Regions from separate parts of the Homo sapiens genome. Here all the other regions are linked to region 1. The links come from fine-mapping of genetic effects on gene expression. A gene starts in region 1. Each other region holds a variant in brackets. All regions are shown on one strand. Distances are between the middles of the regions.

What was found. PIP is the estimated chance that this variant, and not a neighbour inherited with it, causes the effect. A credible set is the group of variants that fine-mapping cannot tell apart.
Region 2: its variant is the best candidate, but not a certain one, in a credible set for the expression of NANP in whole blood (TOPMed, PIP 0.65).
Region 3: its variant is the best candidate, but not a certain one, in a credible set for the expression of NANP in rectum (CEDAR, PIP 0.55).

The regions. Positions count from the first base shown.
Region 1 is chr20:25,621,592-25,625,834 of GRCh38, reverse strand. NANP (N-acetylneuraminic acid phosphatase) reads left to right here and starts at 1,821. Exons shown (of 2, transcript NM_152667.3): 1 at 1,821-1,976. The coding sequence starts at 1,887. ZNF337-AS1 (ZNF337 antisense RNA 1) reads right to left here and starts at 1,790. Exons shown (of 4, transcript NR_126465.1): 1 at 1,700-1,790. RefSeq lists enhancers at 1,732-1,901, 1,873-2,548 and a silencer at 2,072-2,131.
Region 2 is chr20:25,665,568-25,669,810 of GRCh38, reverse strand. All of the region lies in intron 2 of ZNF337-AS1 (ZNF337 antisense RNA 1), which reads right to left. It also overlaps the pseudogene MED28P7. Among named protein-coding and RNA genes, the nearest start is that of ZNF337, 29 kb to the left of the region's middle. The variant A/G (reference allele first, on the strand shown) is at 2,059.
Region 3 is chr20:25,597,467-25,601,709 of GRCh38, reverse strand. No RefSeq gene overlaps it. Among named protein-coding and RNA genes, the nearest start is that of NINL, 14 kb to the right of the region's middle. The variant TG/G (reference allele first, on the strand shown) is at 1,936.

The sequences.
Region 1 (4,243 bases):
GACATTTCAGGCAATTAAAAGTAACTCCAATTAATTCACCATAATTTTGGCTGATTGCTAATCTAAATGTCCACAATTGATAGGCTAGCCCTATACGTCAATGAGGTAAGCACAGAAAGGAGTCATGGTTTTGAGGAATGCCTATGGGTTTATTCTCCACCATAGCAATGAGATGTCAACTGTGATTGTGCTCCATAAAATATAGAAACTGTAGGTAGTCTAACGCTGCAGAAGAAACTCCTATTAATATAAAGATAAACCAATTAATCTAACCTACTGAACATCAGTGGTCTGTTAAGGAGTTCCACCAGCGAGGTGAGAGACTGGCAATTTTTTTCTCTAAAGAGCTAAATAATGAATATTTTAGGATTTCCAGCCACGTGGTCTCGCTTACAATTACTCAACTCTGTCTGCTTCTGTATGGCAACAGCAGCCACAGACGATACAGAAATGAATGTGTGCGCTGTGTTCTAATGCAACTATGGGCACTAAAATTTCTTGATTTTCATGTGTAACAAAACACTGTTATTTTGATTTTTTAAATCCATTTACAAATGTAAAAATCACCCTTAGCCAGGCGCGGTGGCTCACGCCTGTAATCCCAGCTCTTTGGGAGGCCAAGACGGGTGGATCACGAAGTCAGGAGTTCGAGAACCAGCCTGGCCAACATGGTGAAACTCCGTCTCTACTAAAAATACAAAAATTAGCCGGGGGGTGGTGGCATGCGCCTGTAATCCCAGCTACTCAGGAGGCTGAAGCCGGAGAATTGCTTGAACCCGGGAGGCGGAGGTTGCAGTGAGCCAAGATCGTGCCACTACACGCCAGACTGGGTGACAGAGCAAGACTCCATCTCGAAAATAAAAATAAAAATAAATTAAAAAATAAAAAAAACCACTTAGCTCACTGGCTAAACAAAATCAGGTAATTGGCCTGTACCTGACAGTCAATTTCTGGTCACTAATGATGACCACATATCCAAATTACAGTAAAGGTACCCAAGAGAGACAAAGATTAGAGATTAGTGTTACGATCCCCGTTCTGCCAGCACTAGGAGACAAGAGTTGCTACAGCCCTTCCGCGGGTTTAAAAGGCGGTCGACGTCCCTCAACCTCTTGCTATGCCTGAAAACAACCGAGTAAAAGGCATCCAAAGACCTGAGAACGCAAGGTTTCAGGAAAACAATCAGGAAGGGCAAAACATGGGGCAGCCACTACACAGCCCCTCCGTCTTAGGGCACAGGTACTAAACGGGTTGTAAGAGACCCAAGTCACATCCTTCAGAAACGTGCTGGCGCGGGCCCAGGCAGACAGGGATTCCACCCCGGCGAAGGCCGCAAATGGCGCGAGGCGGGAAGGCGCAGGCTCCACCTTCCCCCGTCCCCAGATCACCTACAGTGACCTGCGCGTACAGGCAGGCTAGGACCGCGGGCGCTCAAGGCAGACATCAGGCCCGCCGACGTCTCCGCGCCGCCCGCCCGGCCACCCGGAGAGCCTGCTGCCCAGCGCCTGGCAGCGCGGACAACCTCTCTCGGGGAGGTGATGACGGTCCCTCGCGCCGGAGGGCCCAGGGAGGAAAGAGATAAGCAGAAAGACACCAGGGAAGAACACCACGCTTCGGACCAACGCCAGCCACAGCCACTGAGAAGTCGCCGCATCCGGCGGCGCCGACACACGTTTCCAGGGCTCTTGAGAGACCATACCCTGGGAGTCTCGCGGGATCTCACTTTTCTCGGCGGCGCAGGGAATGAGACAGATCGCGGGAATTCCACCCGCGCCGGGAGATGGTCTGGTGACTTCGCGGCTCCTCCCACGTCTCTCTGGGCAGTCCGCCTTGCGCATGCGCAGGCGGCGGTGGCAAGGCTACGGTTCGCGCCAGCGGCCGGCGCTATGGGGCTGAGCCGCGTGCGGGCGGTTTTCTTTGACTTGGACAACACTCTCATCGACACGGCCGGGGCGAGCAGGAGAGGCATGTTGGAGGTAACGTCCCCACCCATGGCGCTCCTCTGGGCGGGGTCAGTGCGCCCCGCCCCGTCCTGCACGCTCACCTCCCCTTGACCCCACTTCCACCCCGGCGCCGCGGGCCGCTCTTGCTGGTTGAAACCTGTGGAGCGTGCGGGTGCGGAGGTGGCTGGAGGCGCGCGGGCCCTGCGGGTCTGCTTTCCCTGGCCTGGCGGCCGCTTGTCACCCAATCTCGAGCCCTGGAGCGGCTGCTCGCAGGTGCCTTGGCGCTCGGGACGCGGAAGGGCTCCGTGACGGCTGCCACGGTGGCGGAGGTGCCCGTGGGCGCGGGAGGCGACAGCAAAGCCGCGAGACCAGGCGCTGGTCCCGCCCCCGGTCAGACTGTCGGTGTGGAGCTCGACAGAGGGTCGTGTCCCCCATGCGACTTTCGGGGTTGCTGGGAGGAGACATGGTAGAGTTAGCCCCAGTGTTGACCCAAGAAGGGACACGGCTGTCAGTACCGAGCCTGGACTTAAGCCCTGCTTTAGAGAATTGTCGCCGCAGAACTTCTTCTGGCCTCCCTGGCGGGGTGGTGGTCACCGTGGCTTTCTGACACGTGACACAGCAAAAGCCCGTGCTGCGAGGGCATGCCCTTCCTGAGGCGCTCCTCCGCGGCACTGCCCCTCTACACGCGCGGAGGCGCTTTCAGACCTTCCCGTGTTCCAGCCCCAGTCCACCCCGGCTTCCCTTTCTCTACCTTCAGCTTCAAGGGGAAAGGGAAGGATTTATCAGATGTGGAAAACTCACTTTCAAAAGCTAATTCATCCAAACCTGAGCGCCCCGTCCTCTTCATGCTTCATCAGTTAGTTTTTGTGTCCCTGGATCTTCCACTACCTCATCCGTTTTCTTTTTAGCTGCATTCCACTCCTGCCGCATATTCATGTTTGCCCTATAGTTTTAAAAAAGCTGTAAAAAGGATGCCTCCCTTTGGGCTATTCTTCCTGCTGTAGATGTTGCCTGTCTCTCTTGACAGCCATGTTTTCCCGGAGAAATCTATACCCGTTATCTCCTTGTCTCTACCTCCTATTTATTACTAAATCCATCGTAATGTCGCTTTATCTTCACCGCTAGACTGAAATAGACTTGCTGGATCACTAGGCATTCCCAAAATGCCGGAATCAGTAGACATTTTTAAAGTCTGTCTTCATGACTTTACTGAGGCATTCCACACTTTTAACTTGTTGGCCTCCACCTCAGGGGTGCCACCCTGTGCCATATTGCCTCCAGTATCTCTCGCTGCAGATGTTACATATTTACCTGTGTGTTATTAGTAAGCTGAGTCCTGTGCATTTCAATTAAATTATTGCTTTAGGCCAATTCTTGCTGTAGGCCCAGAGTTTGGGCTTTAAAATCAGACATTTGAATATGAATCACAGCTCTCCCAAAACCTAGCTGAAAGTGCCTCAAGGAATTAACCACTCGGAGCCTTATATCTTCATAAAATGTGAATTATATTAGTCCTCAATAACCCTGTAATACTTGGGAAGCCCATGGTTGCAGTGTCCACTCAGCGAACTATAGCACCTTCCACCCTCGTACGCTGTCTGTCCACCACTGCACATGCCCCGTGCATGTCTCAGTTACAGCTGAACTCATCTCTCACCTAGACTGTTGCTGTGGGCTTGTCTCCAGGTTTACCACATCCAGTGTGTCCTCCACATTCTTGCCACAGCAATATTTTTAAAACAAAGACTAAATCGTATGCCTCCCTGGTCTTTACACCCTCACTTATAGTAGTGCTGTATTTTGTTCAGATATTTCTTAATGCATCTGTCAAAGGATATTTCAATTAATTTTGCAACTCAGGTGCCTACTACTAAATAGTGAGCTTCTTGGGAGGGAACAAGCTGTCTTAATTATCCTCGTTTGACACATGGCAAATGTTGAATAAATGCTGGATGGATGGATACAAATTTTTACTTCGAGACTTGGTTCTATTACTGCCTCCTTTATAATTACAAATCATTGTAAATAATTTATGAATGGGCCGGGCGCGGTGGCTCACGCCTGTAATCCCAGTACTTTGGGAGACCGAGATGGGCAGATCACGAGGTCAGCAGATGGAGACCATCCTGGCTAACACGGTGAAACCCCGTCTCTACTAAAAATACAAAAATTAGCCGGGTGTGTTGGCGGGCGCCTGTAGTCCCAGCTACTGGGGAGGCTGAGCCAGGAGAATGGCGTGAACCCGGGAGGCGGAGCTTGCAGTGAGCCGAGATCGCGCCACTGCACTCCAGCCTGGGCGA
Region 2 (4,243 bases), 44 kb before region 1:
GCAGCCCTGTGCAGACAGTTTGCCACAAATCCCTTCTTATGAACTTGGCATTTTGAACGAAGGAGTTAGTTTTATGCTCCCACCTAAATTTTTTCCACTACTTTTATAAGCTGTTAATGTCTTGAGTACTTTATAAAATGCCCAGAGCTTGAGTAAACCAAATAAATTCTTTTTCTCTTTAGCACAGTTAAGACTGTTAGTGTGATGACACTTACAGATTCTATGTTTTTATTTTTGTATGACTTTCATCTTTTTGTGTGTGTTTCCTATTATTTCATCTGAGGGAAAAAAAATAGCCTAAGAATCAGGGGATGAGGATTTTGGTTGTAGGCCTTTTATGATAATTACCCTTCAGTGGTAGTATAGAAAAATATGTAAATTTGCTGTGTTTCAAGGCTTCAGAATACCTCAAAAGAGGAATCTAATGCAACAATGTTTGTAATGCTTCCAAAGCTCTAAGAATGGGGATTTTTTGTGTGAATAGGTCAGAACAGGATTAAGGTTTCCTGGGTTAGGGTAGTCACATTACAGTAGGATCCTTAGGTCAATGCTGACTTTTATTCAGGGTAAGGTTATATTTTGTGTGGTTTGTTTTTTTTTTATAGGGAGGGACATAGTAGGATCAGTGATATGCTAAATTTTGTCATGTTCTGCAGTAATGAATCCATTTAAGTAATGGGGCAGACCCTTTTCTCAGTAACATGGCAGTTGGGGCATAGGTGAAGTATGAGAGGCTAAAGCTTGCTCTGATTATCTCTTTTTGTTTTCAGTTTTGTTTGCCTATATTGTTTTTGTTTTACATTTTGGGAAGGGAGAGATTTTCCATTAAGTAAGATTTTTGCTGTGGATTTGATTCCAAGGGACTGGGGTCTCAGAGTGGAGGTGGGCTTGCGGTATGATCCTTGGCTACTTAACCTCCACCAAGAACATGTGGTGCCTCTGCCTTTAGGAAGATATTTTGTTCTCTCGTTCGTTCCACAGGCCACCTCAGATACTCTTTTGAATTGCTGTTAAGAAATACTCACAAGCATTGTTTCCTGCTCTTGTTGCGTGAGGTTTTCCAGTGTTTTATGCAGTCTTTTATTAGATTACATATTTTTACTCAGAACAAATGCTTCACTGTCATCTGAGCAGGGAGTACTCCTGTGGCTCAGTGTTTTGGCTCACTTTGTTTTCTCCAGCCTTGAAGGTCCCTCCCACACACACACACACATTGACATCCATTCATATCTTGATCTGACCTAGATGCCACCTGGTCCCTAAAGCCTCCCAGCACCCTTTCTGCTGCATCCCTAGGGCACCGGACTTTTATCTCTTCTATTGCCCTTGTTAGGTTCTCCCTTGTGGGTCAGTCATTTGTATCTGTCTCCCTGCCCATCACTAATTGTACAACCATAAAAATTAAGACATTATTCCCCTTGAATATACCAGGGCCATATGTTATTTATCCTTATAAATGATACCTATTACTTTATTTTATTTATGTATATACAGTATCTCGCACTTGAACCTGTGATTAATCACCTGAGACCAATGAATCCCCTCTGTTAGAAAGTATAGTTTAAACAAAGCTTTTAAAACCCACATTATATGACCTCAAGGTTGTTAGCCTAGTCATCTAATGGTGATTCAAAACTCTGATTAGCAGCTTTAGATTTCTTGATTAAAGACTTAAATAAACTAAGTTTTAGGCTTTTTTTTTTTTTTTTTGAGACAGAGTCTCACTCTGTCGCCCAGGCTGGAGTGCAGTGGTGTGATCTCGGCTCACTGCAACCTCCACCCCTCCAGGTTTGAGCAATTCTTTGCCTCAGCCTCCAGAGTAGTTGGGATTACAGGCATGTGCCACCACGCCCAGCTAATTTTTTGTATTTTTAGTAGAGATGGGGTTTCACCATTGTGGCCAGGCTGGACTTGAACTCCTGACCTCGTGATCCACCTGCCTCGGCCTCCCAAAGTGCTGGGATTACAGGTGTGAGCCACCGTGCCCGGCTTTTCTTTTTTTTTTTTTTTTTTTTGAGACAGAGTCTCGCACTGTTGCCCAGGCTGGAGCGCAATGGC[A/G]CCATCTCGGCTCACTGCAATCTCTGCCTCCCAGGTTTAAGCAATTCTGCCTCAGCCTCCCGAGTAACTGGGATTACAGGCTCCCACCACCATGCCCAGCTAATTTTTTCTGTATTTTTTAGTAGAGATGGGGTTTCACTGTGTTGGCCAGGCTGGTCTCGAACTCCTGACCTTGTAATCCGACCACCTCGGCCTCTCAAAGTGTTGGGATTACAGGCCTGAGCCACCGCAACTGGCCAGTTTTGGGCATTCTTTAAAAGGGGTTCTTAGTGAAAAGATTGGAAACTATTCTATTTAGTGCTCAGTGAAAATACTTTGAATTAATGTATATACCAGTTATTGCCATTTGCCTATTTAATTCAGAAGTTTTTTTAAATAAATAGCAATTTTTCAATCTTGAAAAAAAAAAGGAATACAAAACCTGAACAGACTAATAATAAGTAATGAGGTTGAATCCATAATAAAAAGTCTCCCAACAGTGAAAAATCTAGGACCAGATGGCATTGCTGCTACATTCAACTTATAAAGAACAACTAACATTAATTCTCAAATTATTCCAAAAACATGAAGAGGCACGAATTCTTTCAAACTTGACCTCTGAGACCAGCATTACTCTGATACTAAGGAAACAACAGCCAAAAAAAGTCCCTAATGAACATACAGTAAAAATCTTCAAGAGTACTAGCAAACTGAACCTAGCAACACATCAAAAAGATAATATACCATGATCAATGGAATCTACCTCAGGTATGCAAAGGAGGTTGAACATATGCAAATCAATAAATGTGATATATCACATCAACAGATTGAAAGACAAAAACTATGATCCTCTCAATAGATGCAGGAAAAGCATTTTATATAAGTTAACATCCCATCCTGATAAAAACTGTCAACAAATTAGGCATAGAAAAAACATACCTCAACATAATATAAGCCACATATTACAAACCCACAGCTAACATCATAATGAATAGGGGAAAGCTGAAAGCCTTTCCTCCAAGAACTGAAACATGAATCAAATGCCTACTTCCACCTCTCTTATTAACATAGTAGTGGAAGTCTTAGAATCAGGCAAGATAAAGAAATAGGCATCCAAATTGGAAAACAGAAAGGCAAATTATCCCTCTTTACAGACAAGATGATCTTAAATATAGAAAATCCTAAAGACTTCACCAAAAAACTTAGAACAAACAAATTCAGTAAAGTTGCAGGAGACAAAAATCAACATACTAAAATCAGTAGCATTTCTATACACTAATAATGAACTAGTTGAAAAATCAAAAAAGCAATCCCAACTATAGTAGCTACAAAAAAATTAAATACCTAGGAAAAAATTTAACAAAGAGATAAAAGGCCTAGGCAATGAAAACCAAAAAATACTGATGAAAAAAATTGATGAGGACACAAACAGAAAGACATGCCACGCTTAAGGAGCAAAAGAATTAATGTTGTTAAGATGACCATACTACCCAGAGCAATCTACAAATTTAATGCAATCCTTATCAAACTACCAATGACATTCTTCACAAAAATAGAAAAAATACTCCTAAAGTTTGTAAGGAACCACAAAAAATCTCAAAATAGCCAAAGCAATGTAAGCATAAAGAACAAAGTGGGAGGCATCCTTTCTATATATACTAAACCAATGAAGAGAATAAATAGCACAGAAAAACATTCATGTATTTACAGCCAACTGATTTTTAACAGTCACCAGGAATATACATTGGGTAAAGGACACTGTCTAATAAATGGTACTAGGAAAACTGGACAGCCATATGCAGAAGAATAAAACTATACCCCTATCTTTTACCATATGCAAAAAAATCTGCTAAAAACAGATTAAAGACTTAGTGTAGGACCTGAAATCATAAAACTGCTAGAAGCAAACATAGGGAAAATGCTTCAGGAATTGGTCTAGGCTAAGATTTTGTGACGGAGACCTCAAAATCACAGCCAACAAAACCAAAAATTGACAAATGGGATTATATGAAACTAGAAAGCTTCTGCATAGCAAGTAAAACAACAGAGTGAAGAGACAACATATAGAATAGAAGAAAATATTTGCAAACTATTCATCTTGTAAGGGACTAATATACAGAATATACAAGGAACTCAAACAACTCGACACAAAACCCAAATAATCTAATTAAAAAGTGGCAAGGGATCTGAATAGGCATGTCTCAAA
Region 3 (4,243 bases), 24 kb after region 1:
ATGTAGGTGTGTGGAGAGGTGTGTGTGAGATGGCTGTGTGCATGTATGTACGTTCGTGGAGAGGTGTGTGTGAGATGGTTGTGTATGTGTGTGGAGAGGTGTGTGTAGGGGGTGTGCATGTCACACTGGGTGTGTCTAGAAGGGTTGTGTGTGTGTGCTTAGTGGGTGTAGTAGTGAGGTTGTGGTGAATGTGAGTTATACAGTTGTGTTTGTGTACATTGTGTGTATGACAGTGGTATGTGTAGCAGTGTTGTGTTAGGGGTGTGTGTGTAGTGGTTACTGAATAAGAACTATGTGAAGGACAGATGCTTTCTTTATTGAATTAAAACCTGCCTGGGTGAGAGAGAGACAGAGCAGCAGAGAGACAGAGGCAGAGACAGACAGGGAGACAGAGGCAGAGACAGAGAGACGGGGAAAGACAGAGACAGTGGCAGAGAGACAGACAGAGGCAGAGTATCATGAAGAGATGAGACAGAGACAGTGGCAGAGAGGCAGACAGAGTCAGAGACAGAGAAGCAGAGAGAGATGAAGAGAGACACGAAGAGAGACACAGAGAGGCCTGGAATGTCCTGTGTGATGCCGGCCAGGGGTGCCTGTTGTCTCTCCTGCAGTCAATTCCTCTAAAGTCCCAGCCTCCTTCTTAGAGAACCTATCCTTGGCCTCTTCTCAGACTGAACTTCTCCAGTGAGTGGGCAGCCGCCTCCAACTGAGCCCAACTGTGCAAGGCAGGTTCTTCGGGGAATTCAGGACTCACAGGCTCTGGTTTGGGAGTGCCATTCACGAATGTCCACAGGGTCCAGGCCAGCCTGTAGGCGAGCCACACAGGCTGGGGGAGGGCACAGAAGTGGTGTGGGCTGTGGCAGACCCACGAGGGGATGACCCAGAGGACGCCTGGGCACCAGGCCAAGCCAATTGGGTCTGCAGGCAATACCGCGGGGCTCCTGGTCTGTGCGCTCAGCACATTCCTCTTCTGTTGCGTGAACTCTTGAAAGGGCAAGTGAGGTAAAGCCATGGTCACAGAGAAAGGGAGTCTGTGGAGACAGAAGAGTAAGTGGGTCTGCAAGGCAAGGGAGAGGGAGGGACCTGTGGGTCAGGATAGGTACAGTGGACTGAACTGTGTCCCTCCAAAACTCGTGTGCTGAAGCCCCAACCCCTAATGTCACTGTGTCTGGACATGGGGTCTTTAAGGAGGTAAATAAGGATAAATGAGGTCCTAAGGGTGGAGCCCCAATCCAATAGGAATGGTGTCCTTATAGGAAGAGGAAGGGATGCCAGGGATGGGCGTGCACAGAGAAAGCAGAGAAAGGACCAAGTGGGGAAAGGGTGAGAAGTCAGCTGTCCGCAAGCCAAGGAGAGAGGGTCAGAGAAACCTTGATTTTGAGTGCTTACACCTCGATCTTGAACTCCCAGCCTCCAGCACTGTGAGAAACACATTTCTGTTATTCAAGCCACCCAGTCTGTGTATTTTGTCTTGGCAGCCCAAACAGACTCAAACAAGAAGTAATGGTTGTGATGTCTTTGCAGGCCCTGGTTCAGTTGTACCATTCAGTCAAACATTTGAGCAGTATTGAGTGTTGCAGGGTGTCCTAGGCTCTGAGTCTACAGCAGGGAAACAAGGAGCCTGCTCTCATGGAGCTCACAGGCTCAAAGGATGCAGCCACATCATTGGACCTTTCAGTAGGTTCCCTGTGCTGTTAAAGCTCCCGTGTGTGCACGTGATTCAGGCTCCAACAATTCCTGGCCAAGATAACAGCACAGAGGCCCTGGACCACCTCTGGGTGTTCTGTACAGTGGGCCCTTGGGGGCCTGGTCTTTCACCCACTGGGGTGCAATATAAACCCTCTTCAGATGCCAGAACCAAATGAGGGTTCTGGGCCCTCAAAAGCCTTGACCACAGGCAATCATAGCTGCTTTTTTTTTTTTTTTTTTTTTTTT[TG/G]AGACAGAGTCTCACTCTATTGCCCAAGCTGGAGTGCAGTGGCACCATCTTGGCTCACTGCAACCTCCGCCTCCCAGGTTCAAGCAATTCTCATGCCTCAGCTTCCCGAGTAGCTGAGACTACAGGCGTGTGCCACCACGTCCGGCTAATTTTTGTATTTTTAGAAGAGACAGAGTTTCGCCATGTTGCCCAGGCTAGTCTCGAACTCCTGGCCTCAAGTGATTCACCTGCCTTGGCCTCCCAAAGTGCTGGGATTACAGGCACAAGCCACCGTGCCCAGCCCCATACCTGCTTTTAAAGGGGAATTTTATTCTAAGTCAGAAAATTCCAGTGTAGAAGGAAAAAATCCATAGCAAGAACATCATATTTCCCTTTATTTCTCAATTTCCTCTTCTACCATCTTCTCTAGAAATGAAAGACCCTTAGATTAGAGTAATTTTCAAAATGAACTTTCTTCTGTCAACAGCATTTTGATTGAAGTGGTAAGGATGATGTCTACTTTGGCTTACAGTAAAAACCCTCAGCTAACTTCTGTTAGCTAGCTGAATGTTAATACCTAATATTCTCACCAAAACAAGACTGCCCTCAAAAAGAAAATAGACTCTACTGTAAAATAAATCAAATTAAATAAAGTGACACCATCAAATGCTGACAAGGATGCAGAGGACAGAAACTCACTGGTTGCTGGTGGGGAATGCAAAATGGTGTAGCCACTTTGGAAAACCATTTGGCACTGTCTCCTCCAGTTAAACAGATACTTCCCCTATAACCCAGAGATGCCAATGACCCACTCATAGGTATTTACCAAAGTGAATAGAAAACTTATGTTCGAACAAACAAAAACCTGTATGGAAATGTTTCTAGGAACTCTACTCATTTTTTTTTTCTATTTTTTAGTGACGAGGTCTTACTCTGTCACCCAGGCTGGTGTGCAATGGTACGATCACAGCTCAATGCAGCCTCGACCTCCTGGGCTCAAGCCATCCTCCGCTTCAACCTCCTGAGTAGAGTAGCTGGCACCTCAAGTATGTGACACCATGCCTGGCTAGTTTTTAACTTCTATTGTAGAGATAAGGTCTTGCTATGTTGCCCAGGCTGGTCTCAAACACCTTCGCTCAAGCAACCCTCCCATCTCAGCCTCCCAAAGTGCTGGGATTACAGGTGTGAGCCACCATGCCCAGCCTTGTAGTTCTATTCATAATTACCAAAAGGAATGAGCTACTGATACACACGACAACATGGATTAATCTTAGACTCATTTTGCTAAGTGAAAGAAGCCAAACCCAAGGCCGGGCATGGTGGCTCATGCCTGTAATCCCAGCACTTTGGGAGGCTGAGGCAGGTGGATCACGAGGTCAGGAGATCCAGACCATCCTGGCCAACATGGTGAAGCCCCGCCTCTACTAAAAGTACAAAAATTAGCTAGACGTGGCGGCACGCACCTGTAGTCCCAGCTACTCAGGAGGCTGAGGCAGCAGAATCGCTTGAACCCAAGAGGCAGAGGTTGCAGTGAGCCAAGATTGCACCACTGCACTCCAGCCTCGCAACAGAGTGAGACTCCATCTCAAAAAAAAAGAAGAACAAGAACAAGAAGCCAAACCCCAAAGTCTACATGTGTAATTCCATTCATATGACATTTTAGAAAAGGCAAAACTACAAGGACAGAAGACACATCAATGGTTGCCAGGGACTTGGGGGAGGGGAGCAGTTAATTGCACAGGGACACATAGGGTGACTGTATTAGTCCATTTTCACACTGCTGATAAAGACATACCCGAGACCGGGAAGAAAAAGAGGTTTAATTGGACTTACAGATCCACATGGCTGCGGAGGCCTGAGAATCATGGCAGGAGGCGCAAGGCACTTCTTACATGGCAGCAGCAAGAAAAAATAAGGAAGATGCAAAAGCAGAAACCCCTGATAAAACCATCAGATCTCATGAGACTTATTCACTATCACGAGAACAGTATAGGGGAAACCACCCCTGTGATTCAAATTATCTCCCACCAGGTCCCTCCCACAACACATGGGAATTATGGTAATACAATTCAAGGTGAGATTTGGATGGGGACACAGAGCCAAACCATACCAGTGACTTTCACAGTGATGGAACTTTACCTATGGTACTGGGATAGTCGATATATGGTGATCTACACAATTGTCAATTTCATACTTTATTTTTTCATACTGCACGAACTTTATTGCATGCCGATTAAAAAATAATCAAACAGCATATTTAAGACCTAATATGGAAAACAGACTGTGATAAATGAATCTAACCTTATTCTAAATGTGTGATATAACCTC